4 separate regions of the Homo sapiens genome follow, and all the other regions are reported to be linked to region 2. The links are microRNA targets in miRTarBase. Many come from high-throughput screens and were not tested one by one. Region 2 holds a microRNA gene; each other region holds the end of a gene's coding sequence.

Region 1 (3,096 bases), not on the chromosome of region 2:
CCTCAACGGCAACCCCTGGGACTGTGGTTGTCGCGCGCGCTCCCTGTGGGAATGGCTGCAGAGGTTCCGGGGCTCCAGCTCCGCTGTCCCCTGTGTGTCCCCTGGGCTGCGGCACGGCCAGGACCTGAAGCTGCTGAGGGCCGAGGACTTCCGGAACTGCACGGGACCAGCGTCCCCGCACCAGATCAAGTCACACACGCTCACCACCACCGACAGGGCCGCCCGCAAGGAACACCACTCACCCCACGGCCCCACCAGGAGCAAGGGCCACCCGCACGGCCCCCGGCCCGGCCACAGGAAGCCGGGGAAGAACTGCACCAACCCCAGGAACCGCAATCAGATCTCTAAGGCGGGCGCCGGGAAACAGGCCCCCGAGCTGCCAGACTATGCCCCAGACTACCAGCACAAGTTCAGTTTTGACATCATGCCTACGGCCCGGCCCAAGAGGAAGGGCAAGTGTGCCCGCAGGACCCCCATCCGTGCCCCCAGCGGGGTGCAGCAGGCCTCCTCGGCCAGTTCCCTGGGGGCCTCCCTCCTGGCCTGGACACTGGGGCTGGCGGTCACTCTCCGCTGAGGACCCAGGGCGTCAGCACCCAGCACTGCCACATGTCCACCAAGGAACAGAATTTATTTTCTTCTTTTTTTAACAAGTGGAAGATCTGCTGGGTTTCAGGAAAAGGCTGGTAGAGCCTTCGGCTGCTGTCTGGACGTCTGGACCCTGCCATGTGGATTATAAACCCAAAGTGTACAGCCCTAGGCGGGAGGGGGTGGCGCTTCTCAGCCGGCTGTCCCAGCCAGCCCCGCAGAGCGCCCACGGACAGTGTCCACTCTGGCAAGGTGGGAAAAGGCACTCCAAGTGCATCCTCCACTGGCAACAGTGGGACAATTGCCCCCGACGGCGGCACCGGGGCTCTGTGGAATCCCGATCGTTCCGAGAGGTCTGGAGGGCCCCGTGGTTCCTGGAGAAAGCAGGACGCAGAGAAGAACAAATGAGGCTCACCCACGAGGCTGGGTGGCCAGCAGTCTGGGCACACACGAGCAGGTGGCATCTTGGCTCTTGCCTGAGGCCAGTCACCCTGCCCTGAATTCTATCCTACTCCACCTTCAGCCCCTCCCTCGGGGGTAGCGCCTCTCATTCCTGATGTCTCAGGCAACCCTGGCAGACCCAGGTCCAACTGCTGGGGTCCAAGAACCAATTACCAAAGGAAAGATCATCAGAGGCTGAAATCTAGAACTTCATCCCGGGCAATGAGGTTCTCACAGAAGGTGCAGTTTTATAACTAACTACGTCCACTTATATATATTCACACTCTACATATATATATATATATATATATATATATATATATATATATATACACAAATGCACAGTCCCCCTCCCACTCCGTTACCTAACTGTACGTCTTTTCATGTTTATAAACTATACAGAAAACTGTATTTGCTGAACTAAGGATTGTATTGGTGATTTCTAGCAAAAACAAAGTGATAGAATTTTTGTCTAGAATCCCAAACTGGCAACGATAGTCTCCAAGGGACCTGGCCTTGCCAAGGGCCTGGGGCAAGGTGTCGGCGGGACGGTGAGGAAGGGGGAGGCAGCAAGAGTCACTTTGGGGGACCAATATTCTTAGATATTTAGAGCATCACCTTGTTTTTATATGCAACACAAGCCTGTCTGCCACCCTGGAGCGCCCTGTCACCCCTGCTGTCGTAGCTGTTGGCTTCAGGGTGAGAAGTGAGAAGCAGCTTATTGTATATGAGGGAGCCAGGCCCCGAGGGTGAGCGAGATGGAGAAGGGGAAGGAAGGGGCTTTGGGATCTGGAAACCAGCAGGCCAGGCAGCATCCACAGTGTTAGTCCAAAGGGTCGGACCGTGTCGTCAGCCTAGCGTTTGGTCAGTGACGGCCTGGACGGGCCAAGGAGACTCCGGGCTTGAGCCCAGGCCTCCCGCACGGCTCAGCTGCTGAATTTTTCCTTGAGGCTGTTTGGTGTGTGACCCAGCAAGGGCCCTGTGTGGGACAGCAGGAGGGAGGCGTCGGGGGCCTTAGCAGAAGGGGAACAATGAGGGCATTTCATGAACCATCTCAGGCACTTCTGCATCACGGAAGACCTGGCCCTCCCAGCCGTCCTGGGGATGCTCAGGGTGCAGGCAGAGGCTCGGGAGGCCGGACTCAGGGGTCAGAAGCAGGGACTGGGGCAGGCGAGCCCGGACAGGGAAGAGGGGCTCCGATCAAAGCCGGCCGTGCTGCTGGCCGGGGGCCCAGGTGGGTACAAGCTCCTTTGTGCTTTGCACAAACCTGAATCCCCCACCAGAGAGGATGTGTGTGAGGAGCCAGAAACGCTGAATCCAATTAAGAGAGAAAAATAATAATAACAATAAATGATCTTGGACAAGAACCCTGTTTTTCATTTCCTAACCCCGCATTCCCGACAGGTGGCAGATCCTGGGCTTCTGTGGGTGGGCGAGCCTGGCCGGGCACAGCTCTGGGAACACAGCACATTTGTTGGCGGGAGGAGCCGCAGGGGGCAGGGGCGCACTGATTCACGGGACACATGAGAGCACGCACACCCTGGTGCTCCGTTTCGTGGCACTTCCCTTGCCCGCACAGATCATGATTCACTTTCCACATTCTGACTGCCCCGGGTCGGCACCATCTCCGTGGCTCTCCCCGGAGGAGGCTGGTCCTGGGTCCTTCCTGGCCTATTCCCGGGAGTCTCCGGAGCAATGGCTAAGTGACTGATCCTCAGGGCGCCCGGCAGGCGGCTGGTGGGGACGGGCGGCTGCAAGGAAACAGTCAGTACCTGGGGCCCAAGGAGTTTTCCAGGAGGCTAGGGACCCACCCGGACAGCTGTGGGTGGGCTTGGAGACTGCACACGTCTCTCTGGCTTCAGAGAAAGGAGAGGGTTCCCCGGATAGAGGGAGGAAGGCTGTGTTTTCAGGCCTGGCTGGACAAATCCTCCTCAGTATGAGGCTTGGGGCATTCACTAAAGGGAGCCCAGTGACTGCAGACCAAAGAATCCTCAGCCTGCACCTGCTCCCCTGTGGCCTGCAGGCTCTGACCCAGGCCGAGGTGCTAGGGCCTGGCTGTCCCTTAGAACC
Region 2 (3,000 bases):
GGAATCGGACTCTCACCCATGGGACGTGAGTGGGGAACAAAAATCAATATTATTTCCTCAAAGGTGTAGAAAACCATGGCTAACATTTGTATTCCACTTACATTGTACTTATAATGGTACTTTTTCACATTGCTTGTCATCTGCTGTTATAAAAATAATGCAGGAATCTGAAAAATAATAATTAGTAGAACTAACACTTACAAAGGTCTTACTCTGTCAGACACTATCCTAAGCAATCTTATCCAGTTCTCACAGCTACCCCCATTTTACAGATGAGGAAACAGAGGTAGAGAGATGTTAAATAGTTGCCCAATGTCATACAGCCAATAGTTAGAGGAGGTAGGATTCAAACTGAGGCAGCCTGGCTTCACAGTTACTAAACTATGAAGTTACTAAACACCTCACTATGCCTTTAGACTACCCAGTGACACAGGAAAGAAAAACTGGTATTATTGGCCACGTCACTGATTTCTGTACACTTGTAAAAGACTTACAATAAATAATAGAGTAGCATTTTTATTAAATAGTAATCCCACCCCAATCATGTGTCCTTGCTCAAAAATGAATTAGTTATAAATTTTGCATATTTTTACACAACTGTGAAATTTTATACTTAATAAACATTAATCACATAGCAATATGAAAATTCTTTATTGTTACTATGCATACTGAACTCACAGGAAATTACCCCTGAAACAATTCAGCAGTAACACCAGGAAACTGCTGCTACACAGAAAGTGCTCAATGAAGTGGCACCAGAAATGTGGCCCAGCGGGGATCCATTTTCAGCTTGGACTTCTTGCAGGAAGTAACTCTCCGTGCCAGAGGTGCTGCCACACACTTTCTCCCATGGCCACAAGCACCTGCAGGATTCTAATTCCATCAGAACAACACAGATACATAATGTTCAATTTAGGCAGCCAGAGCACTGCAGAACCATGGAGCCATTTCTGTAACTTACTGGTTGGCAACCTGCATTTGGCAGAACATACTGGACATATATCAAATGTTAAAAAGAAATCAATTGATAAAGCTCTCCACTTAGAGACACAGACTTACTTTGAGCAAGTCCTTAAGAAAAGCAAGTGGAGTGCCTCTCCCCATCCCCACCCCACCCAAGAGCTATCAATCTTCCAATCAGGATCATCACTGTCCTCTTTCATCAAATTAATCGCACAGCAGCCATTATTACCAACTTGATATCTAAAATGCCACGTACATTCTCTGTATTTATTGTACTGTTATTATTGTTCTGTGTTAGTGACTTTAACTACAAAAAACTTATATAAAGACTTTAAGGTATTTACTCACAAATTTGCTCTCCTGCATCTATGTTTACTAGAAAGTCCTTTAGTTCCTCAAACACAAAACCTCCTGCCACAATAAATCTAATCGCAACCCAAGCCTCATGTACTAAGATCAAGATCAGCAGAGGTTGGAGGTGTGTGATTCTATATGGTTGTTGTAATTTTATATTTAAAAAGACTGGCAATTTTGTTATTAATCAGGGATATAATCTGTATTAAAAAAATGGCTACAGGAATGTCATGTTCCGTTCCATTTATACCACTTTTCAGACTTAAACTGTTTTTGTTATGTATTAGAGGGGAAATATGAAACATTTGCCAGTTAGTTTACAATGGATCACATGTGGGACTAAAGAGTTTGACTCCAATCATTGATCAGATCTTCAAAAAAAGCCCCTCTCCAGAAATAGACAGGAAAATAAATCTATTCTGTACAAGACACTGCACAGCACTCAACAGATAGAAGGGTGAGAAAAACAGACTTTCACCCAAAGAAATCCACAGTCCACAATAAGGTTTAAACAGTACCCAGATGGCAACACAAGGAGCCGGAGCAGCACTGACACCTGCCATAAGTGCTAAAGACCCAAAGTAACTGCCACTGTCCTGAGAATTCCCAAGGGAGGAGGTTTGGCTTGGCCTTGCATCTCTGTTGCCTAGAGACACAGCAGTAAATATATATTGAACAACTAAATTAATAAATGCCTTTGACTACTACATACATATGCCTACTACTACTTTCATATGTAGGCATATGTATGTAGTAGTCAAAGGCATTTACATACTTCATACAAAAAGACCACTGTGTCTTAAAAGATCAGCTTTTCTCTACAGAGAAAACCATGAGAATTGAAAAAGTAGAGGGAGAAAGAGAGAAAAGACAAGAAGAGGTGAGTATCAGGAGCAACAGGGGAGGGAACAGGAGCAACCAGGACCCAGAAAGGGCATATGGAAAGCTGAGAATGCCACGAGGGAAGGAAAAGGAGGAAGTGAGGCAGGAAAGGAGCTACCCACACAGCACCAGGGTCGCAGTTTAGTCAAGAAGGCTTTAGCCTCCTCTGGGACTTCTAGTTACACTATTTGGCGTCCTGCACCACCTCAGGTGCATTCACCCTGCCCATGACACCACGGTAACTCAGTAAGTGCATAAACCATAGACTGCAGTTCCTCAGAACCGCTTATCTGAGACAGCATGCTGGTACTTCCTGAATGGCAGCCTGGCATTCTGAGATTATACTCTTCCTTCATGTATGGTGCTAGAATCGGTCCTCTCCTTTATGAAATGAAAGGGATAGTACACATTAAGACATATTTTATGAAATTTTATTGCTGTACCTTACTTTCTAAAATCCCCTCTTGCTCTTTTCCCTACACTGTTCAATAAAACCCAAAGTCTCATAACCACTAGAGTGTGCCACATCTTAAAAGATTTTTTATGAAAAGCTAAAAAGTTTAAAATATGAGTATGAAAACCCTTACCTAACTTGAAAACTATTAGGTAAAATGTTTTGTTCTCCAGAGATTTTAGATAAAAATAGGTTTTATTACTCCTTTGGGCAAAGAATGTCATTATTAAATTAAAAAAAAAAGGAAGCAGATCAAAACTCAGCACCTGTTCTATGACCTCATTTTGGAAAATATGGGGGAACGAGTATCATCACGTGAATACATATATATAATGCATGTATACATG
Region 3 (3,107 bases), not on the chromosome of region 2:
AGGAAGTCTTCTGCGCATCTGTCCCAGAGATCGCCGCCCAGGAAGAGGCCTACGAGGAGGACGCGGACCCCGAGTTTCCGGAGCTCCAGATGGACTCCGCAGCCGGCTCAGCCGCTGGGCTCTACTCCTCCGCCAGAAGTATGTTCAGCCCCTACCGGGAGGGCCCCATCCCAGAACCCTGTGCTCTGGCCCCCAACCCCAGTTCAGAGGGACACTCTCCAGGCCCCTTCTTCGACCCGGAATTCCGCCTTCTGGAGCCTGTCCCCAGCTCACCTCTCCAACCTCTACCTCCCTCTCCGCGCGTGGGGAGTCCAGGTCCCCACGCGCACCCGCCGCTCCCGAAACGCCCTCCGTGCAAGGCCCGCAGACGACTGTTCCAGGAATGAACTGCTTCCCACAATCCCTTGCCACCGGCTGCGGGTTCTTGTGGATCCTCCAAGACTCACTGTGAGGACTTGCCACAGCCCGGAAATGCAGCATCTTCATTCATCGACAGCGGGCAGTTGGATTACTGTTGTTTGGGTGGGTTGGTTGGTTGGCTGGCTGGCTGGTTGGTTTTTTGGCAGAATTCCTTGGTAAGTGGCAGGCAAGGACATGAAAAAAGAAAAGCAGATTCTGGTAAGCACCTTTACCAAGAAGAGTAGACCACACATAACCAGTCATGGATTTTCAGATCCCTTGCCTTTGCTGCAGGAGCTGTTACTTCTGCCTTTGTCACCTTCAGCCAACTGTATCCTCAGTTTCACCCCTACTCTTGCTTAAAGCTCCCTTCAGTTTTCTTTAAAATTCCCCCCTTTTTTTTTATCACTTCCATACACCTATCCGTTCTCTCCAATCCAGATCATTGTCTTTCCTTCTTTTTGCAGTTAGGAATTTACCTATACGATTTCTCCCAACATCCTCTGAGGTGCTTCTGACCACTGATTTTATTTTCCACTTGCTCTCCTTAACTCCTTTTCCTGGACCTGGACAATCAAGATAAATGCATATTAGATTAGATAGTAAACAAACAACATTCAAATGTAATGAATGCACTGGACCTTTTGGAAGTGTTTCTGCAAATAAGAATTTAAGGGCCGGGCGCGATGGCTCACGCCTGTAATCCCAGCACTTTGGGAGGCCGAGGCGTGTGGATCACCTGCAGTCAGGAGTTCGAGACTAGCCTGGCCAACATGGCGAAACTCCGTCTCTACTAAAAATACGAAAATTAGCCGGGCATGGTGGCGTGTGCCTGTAATCCCAGCTACTAGCAGGGATGAGGCAGGAGGAGTGCTTGAACCTGAGAGGCAGAGGTTGCAATGAGCCGAGATCGTGCCATTGCACTCCAGCCTGGGCAACAGAGTGAGACTCCATCTCAAAAAAAAAAAAAAGAAAACGAAAAAACAATTTAAAAATTAGTGAAAGCAATATTTAATGAGGGAAAGTAGGAAGTTGTGACACTTTCATTCCAGCAGCATCTTGTACAATGACATATTCTATGTACTTTAACCAATGGGTATTCCTGAATTTCAGGGCAGTGTGGGCTTCATCTTGATTTCCTCTCAGGGGTACTCACTCACCTTCACCGCATGGACATTTGGTCTAATTTATTTTTGAGAGTTTTTTTCATGCTCTTGAGTCCATCACCCTGAATTGGCAGTCGTTATTTCTTAGTATTATTTCCTTAATGTCTTTTTAACTATAAAGGAAAGGAAATATTACAGATAATGTTGTCATATCCTTTGATCCCCACTCTTCTCCCCCATTCCCAGGGGATTCACATCATGACACAAAGTTGATGGATATCATTCTAGTCAATATATGAAAGCTACATATACATATATATATGTATAGATATAAATAAGCAATGTTTATGTTGTTTTCTGGACAATTAAATTTACATAACTACCTCATATTCTCCAGTTTTTTTCTCAACTTTATTTTCGAGATGACATAAATATGTGTAGTAAATTTCTTCTAAAGATTCCAGTATCCATCATATGATTGTGATATTTGTTCTTTATTTATTTCTTTATTTGTTTATTTATTGGAGACAGGGTCTCATTCTGTCACCCTGGATGGAGTGCAGTGGCACAATGAGTGGGCTCAAGAGATCCTTTGCCTCAGCCTCCCAAGTAACTGGGACTACAGGTGCGCACTCCCACACCCACCTAAATTTAAAAAAAATTTTTTTTTTAGAGATGGAGTCTCACTATGTTGCCCAGGCTGGTTTCAAACTCCTGGCCTCAAGCAGTCCTCCTGACACAGCCTCCAAAAGTGCTGGAATTACAGGAGTGAGCTACCGCACCTGGCCTCAGATTTATTTTTATTTCTTTTTTGTTTTGGGGGGTTTTTTTTAGATACCAGGTCTCTCTCTATCACCCAGGTTGGAGTGTAATGGCACAATCATAGCTCACAACAGCTTTGAACTCCTAGGCTTAAGCAGTCCTCTCACCTAAGCCTCCCAAGTGGCAGGGACTACAGGCACAAACCACGATACCCAAATAATTTTTTTAATTTTTTGTGGAGAAGGAGTCTTGCTCGGTTGCCCAGGCTTGTCTTGAACTCCTGGGCTCAAGTGATCCTCCTGCCTTCCAAAATGCTGGGATTACAGGCATGAGCCACAGCACCTAGCCTCAGATTTCTTAAATATGACACCGAAAGCACAATCCTTAAAGAAATAATGTGATGACGGGCCTCATCCAAATGAAGAACTTTTGTTCTCCAAAGACACTGTTAAAATGAAAAGATAAGCCACAGATGGAAAAAAAACATATATTCACAACGCAAATATCTAATAAAGGACTTGTGTGTCCAGAATAACACTTTCAAAATTGAGTAAGAAAACTCTTTAAAAGAAGGCAATAAAATCAAGACACTCAAAAATACAACCATCACAATGACTAGCATCAAATTAAAGATTATTAAATATATGAATGTGCAGCAAAATGTGACCCATAAACAGGAGTAAAAATAGTTGATAAAGTTCTTTATTTTTTTTATATTAGCCCTTTATCAGATGTGTGGTTTGCACATCTTTTCTCCTAATCTGTGGGTTGTCTCCTCATTCTCTTGTTTCCTTTGCTGTGCAGAAGCTTTTTAGTTTGATTCAATCCCATTTGTTTATT
Region 4 (3,107 bases), not on the chromosome of region 2:
GACCTGCTTGCTGGTGACGTAATTGTGCATGCGCGGCCCATCCGCACGCGGGCTAGCAAGTACTACATCCCCGAGGCCGTGTACGGCCTGCCCGCCTATCCGGCCTACGCGGGCGGCGGTGGCTTTGTGCTTTCCGGGGCCACGCTGCACCGCCTGGCTGGCGCCTGTGCGCAGGTCGAGCTCTTCCCCATCGACGACGTCTTTCTGGGCATGTGTCTGCAGCGCCTGCGGCTCACGCCCGAGCCTCACCCTGCCTTCCGCACCTTTGGCATCCCCCAGCCTTCAGCCGCGCCGCATTTGAGCACCTTCGACCCCTGCTTTTACCGTGAGCTGGTTGTAGTGCACGGGCTCTCGGCCGCTGACATCTGGCTTATGTGGCGCCTGCTGCACGGGCCGCATGGGCCAGCCTGTGCGCATCCACAGCCTGTCGCTGCAGGCCCCTTCCAATGGGACTCCTAGCTCCCCACTACAGCCCCAAGCTCCTAACTCAGACCCAGAATGGAGCCGGTTTCCCAGATTATTGCCGTGTATGTGGTTCTTCCCTGATCACCAGGTGCCTGTCTCCACAGGATCCCAGGGGATGGGGGTTAAGCTTGGCTCCTGGCGGTCCACCCTGCTGGAACCAGTTGAAACCCGTGTAATGGTGACCCTTTGAGCGAGCCAAGGCTGGGTGGTAGATGACCATCTCTTGTCCAACAGGTCCCAGAGCAGTGGATATGTCTGGTCCTCCTAGTAGCACAGAGGTGTGTTCTGGTGTGGTGGCAGGGACTTAGGGAATCCTACCACTCTGCTGGATTTGGAACCCCCTAGGCTGACGCGGACGTATGCAGAGGCTCTCAAGGCCAGGCCCCACAGGGAGGTGGAGGGGCTCCGGCCGCCACAGCCTGAATTCATGAACCTGGCAGGCACTTTGCCATAGCTCATCTGAAAACAGATATTATGCTTCCCACAACCTCTCCTGGGCCCAGGTGTGGCTGAGCACCAGGGATGGAGCCACACATAAGGGACAAATGAGTGCACGGTCCTACCTAGTCTTTCCTCACCTCCTGAACTCACACAACAATGCCAGTCTCCCACTGGAGGCTGTATCCCCTCAGAGGAGCCAAGGAATGTCTTCCCCTGAGATGCCACCACTATTAATTTCCCCATATGCTTCAACCACCCCCTTGCTCAAAAAACCAATACCCACACTTACCTTAATACAAACATCCCAGCAACAGCACATGGCAGGCCATTGCTGAGGGCACAGGTGCTTTATTGGAGAGGGGATGTGGGCAGGGGATAAGGAAGGTTCCCCCATTCCAGGAGGATGGGAACAGTCCTGGCTGCCCCTGACAGTGGGGATATGCAAGGGGCTCTGGCCAGGCCACAGTCCAAATGGGAAGACACCAGTCAGTCACAAAAGTCGGGAGCGCCACACAAACCTGGCTATAAGGCCCAGGAACCATATAGGAGCCTGAGACAGGTCCCCTGCACATTCATCATTAAACTATACAGGATGAGGCTGTACATGAGTTAATTACAAAAGAGTCATATTTACAAAAATCTGTACACACATTTGAAAAACTCACAAAATTGTCATCTATGTATCACAAGTTGCTAGACCAAAATATTAAAAATGGGATAAAATTATACATTTTTCTTCTCAGTTCTTTTCAAAAGGATTAATATTTTTAAAGCACATATATGCTACTTTCCATTAGCAAGACCCATGAAGGGACTGAGCAGCCCAGCCTTCCTTGAGCCCCCAGAGGCTTTGAGCCATGAAATGGCCCAGCCAGGGGCCAGTGCCCAGGGTTGGGGCAGAGAGCCAGCCCACAGTGCAGAACAGAATGCTGAAACACAACAAAAGTAGGAAGATGTCTTTGGCTAAAACTTTGGCATTAAATAAAAGAGGCAAACAGGATGGAAACATGCAGCCCTGCCAGCCAGGATGGGGCAGAGCAGGGGCACAGGCAATCTTGAAAGCTGACTCCAACAGGGGTGAGAACCAGGCCTGGGCATGTACCTGGATGGTAGAAAGCTGTGTTTCAACCAGTTTGGTGTGCCCAGGCAGGGAGCGCGTGCAAGAAAGGAACAGGGAAGGGCAGGTGGGCCACCCTGGCCACAGCCAGCTCATCAAGTAACTAAAGTGGATGTAGTGCAAATGTCGCAACCAAGTACTATGGACACGCTACCTGCTTGCCTTAAGGGTCATGTGGCAATGTGGAGCCAAAGGCAGGACCTTGTCCTTATCCTGGGTGCCTGTGTCCTCAGTCACAGAAAGAGCCCCAAGTCTTCCCAATGTGCATGGGACAAGGGTTGACCTCTCCTGCCTCCTTGTTAGTTGAGAGCTCCTGGGTCCAGGAATCAAGGCTCAAACTTTGTGCTTCTCTTTGCAGTCTGTGTCCCCTGCTGGCACCAGCAGGCCAAAGATGGACAGAAGAATATCTGGGCCACTCAGCCCATGGCAGAGCACCCAGCCTGAGCCCAACCTCAGAACATCACAACAGCCCTTCAGCACTGGCCAGGTGTCCAAGAAAACCCACAGGGTGGTACAGAGGCCCACTGAGCAGGATGTGATGCACAGTTCCACGGGACAGAGGGGCATGGGTGGTGGTGTCCCTAGGGGAGTTCCGCTGTTCTCAGGTGGCTACCAGGCCTGGGGGGGCCATACAGGGTCACCGAGGCAATGTGGTTGTTCTGCATGACCTGGTGTGAGAAGAGGACAGTGGGTCAAGGGGGAGAGGTAAAGGGATGTAGGCAGATCCTGTGCATGAGGGCTGGAGGTTGTGTGACATACCTGCACCTAATGGCTGGGTTTCCCGACTCCTCAACCTCCCCTGGTTCATGCTAAAGGCCCCCCTCTGCCTGAGATCTGCCTGTTTCTCAATGGTTACACACAGCCTTTACCATGGCCACGTGTCCAGTCCTTCTGGAACTGTTAAGTGTCTGCTGGAGATACTGCATCCACAGGGAAAACAAGGGCAGCTTGCTGTTCTCCCAAGTCAGCAGGGCCTCCAGAGCCACTCACTCCCCTACAATGCATTTGTTCACATGCCACTGGAGGGCCCCCAACACCCTCTGCTGGGCCCCACTTGCCCTGTGGTTCCCTTCCCTGCTATAAT

What was found. The annotated mature microRNA hsa-miR-7852-3p reads UAUGUAGUAGUCAAAGGCAUUU and lies in region 2 at 2,065-2,086, shown strand. An mRNA with a match to its seed (bases 2 to 7 or 8) in the 3' UTR can be bound and repressed. Matches are read on the target gene's strand: a 7mer-m8 pairs with bases 2 to 8, a 7mer-A1 pairs with bases 2 to 7 and ends in A, and an 8mer does both.
Region 1: the mRNA of RTN4RL1 is a reported target of hsa-miR-7852-3p. Seed matches in the 3' UTR shown: 7mer-A1 at 1,312-1,318.
Region 3: miRTarBase lists PRR23A as a target of hsa-miR-7852-3p. Seed matches in the 3' UTR shown: 7mer-A1 at 1,808-1,814.
Region 4: the mRNA of PHAF1 is a reported target of hsa-miR-7852-3p. Seed matches in the 3' UTR shown: 7mer-m8 at 2,136-2,142.

Annotation. Positions count from the first base shown.
Region 1 is chr17:1,933,974-1,937,069 of GRCh38, reverse strand. It overlaps RTN4RL1 (reticulon 4 receptor like 1), which reads left to right. Exons shown (of 2, transcript NM_178568.4): 2 at 1-2,393. The coding sequence ends at 574. Among named protein-coding and RNA genes, the nearest start is that of RTN4RL1-AS1, 82 kb to the left of the region's middle.
Region 2 is chr1:107,895,218-107,898,217 of GRCh38, forward strand. MIR7852 (microRNA 7852) reads left to right here and starts at 2,006; the gene lies at 2,006-2,087. The region is part of intron 1 of VAV3 (vav guanine nucleotide exchange factor 3); the gene reads right to left.
Region 3 is chr3:139,002,747-139,005,853 of GRCh38, reverse strand. It overlaps PRR23A (proline rich 23A), which reads left to right. Exons shown (of 1, transcript NM_001134659.1): 1 at 1-1,892. The coding sequence ends at 386. Among named protein-coding and RNA genes, the nearest start is that of PRR23A, 2.0 kb to the left of the region's middle.
Region 4 is chr16:67,146,629-67,149,735 of GRCh38, reverse strand. PHAF1 (phagophore assembly factor 1) reads right to left here. Exons shown (of 16, transcript NM_025187.5): 16 at 1,192-2,691. The coding sequence ends at 2,605. It overlaps B3GNT9 (UDP-GlcNAc:betaGal beta-1,3-N-acetylglucosaminyltransferase 9), which reads left to right. Exons shown (of 2, transcript NM_033309.3): 2 at 1-1,632. The coding sequence ends at 459. Among named protein-coding and RNA genes, the nearest start is that of B3GNT9, 2.8 kb to the left of the region's middle.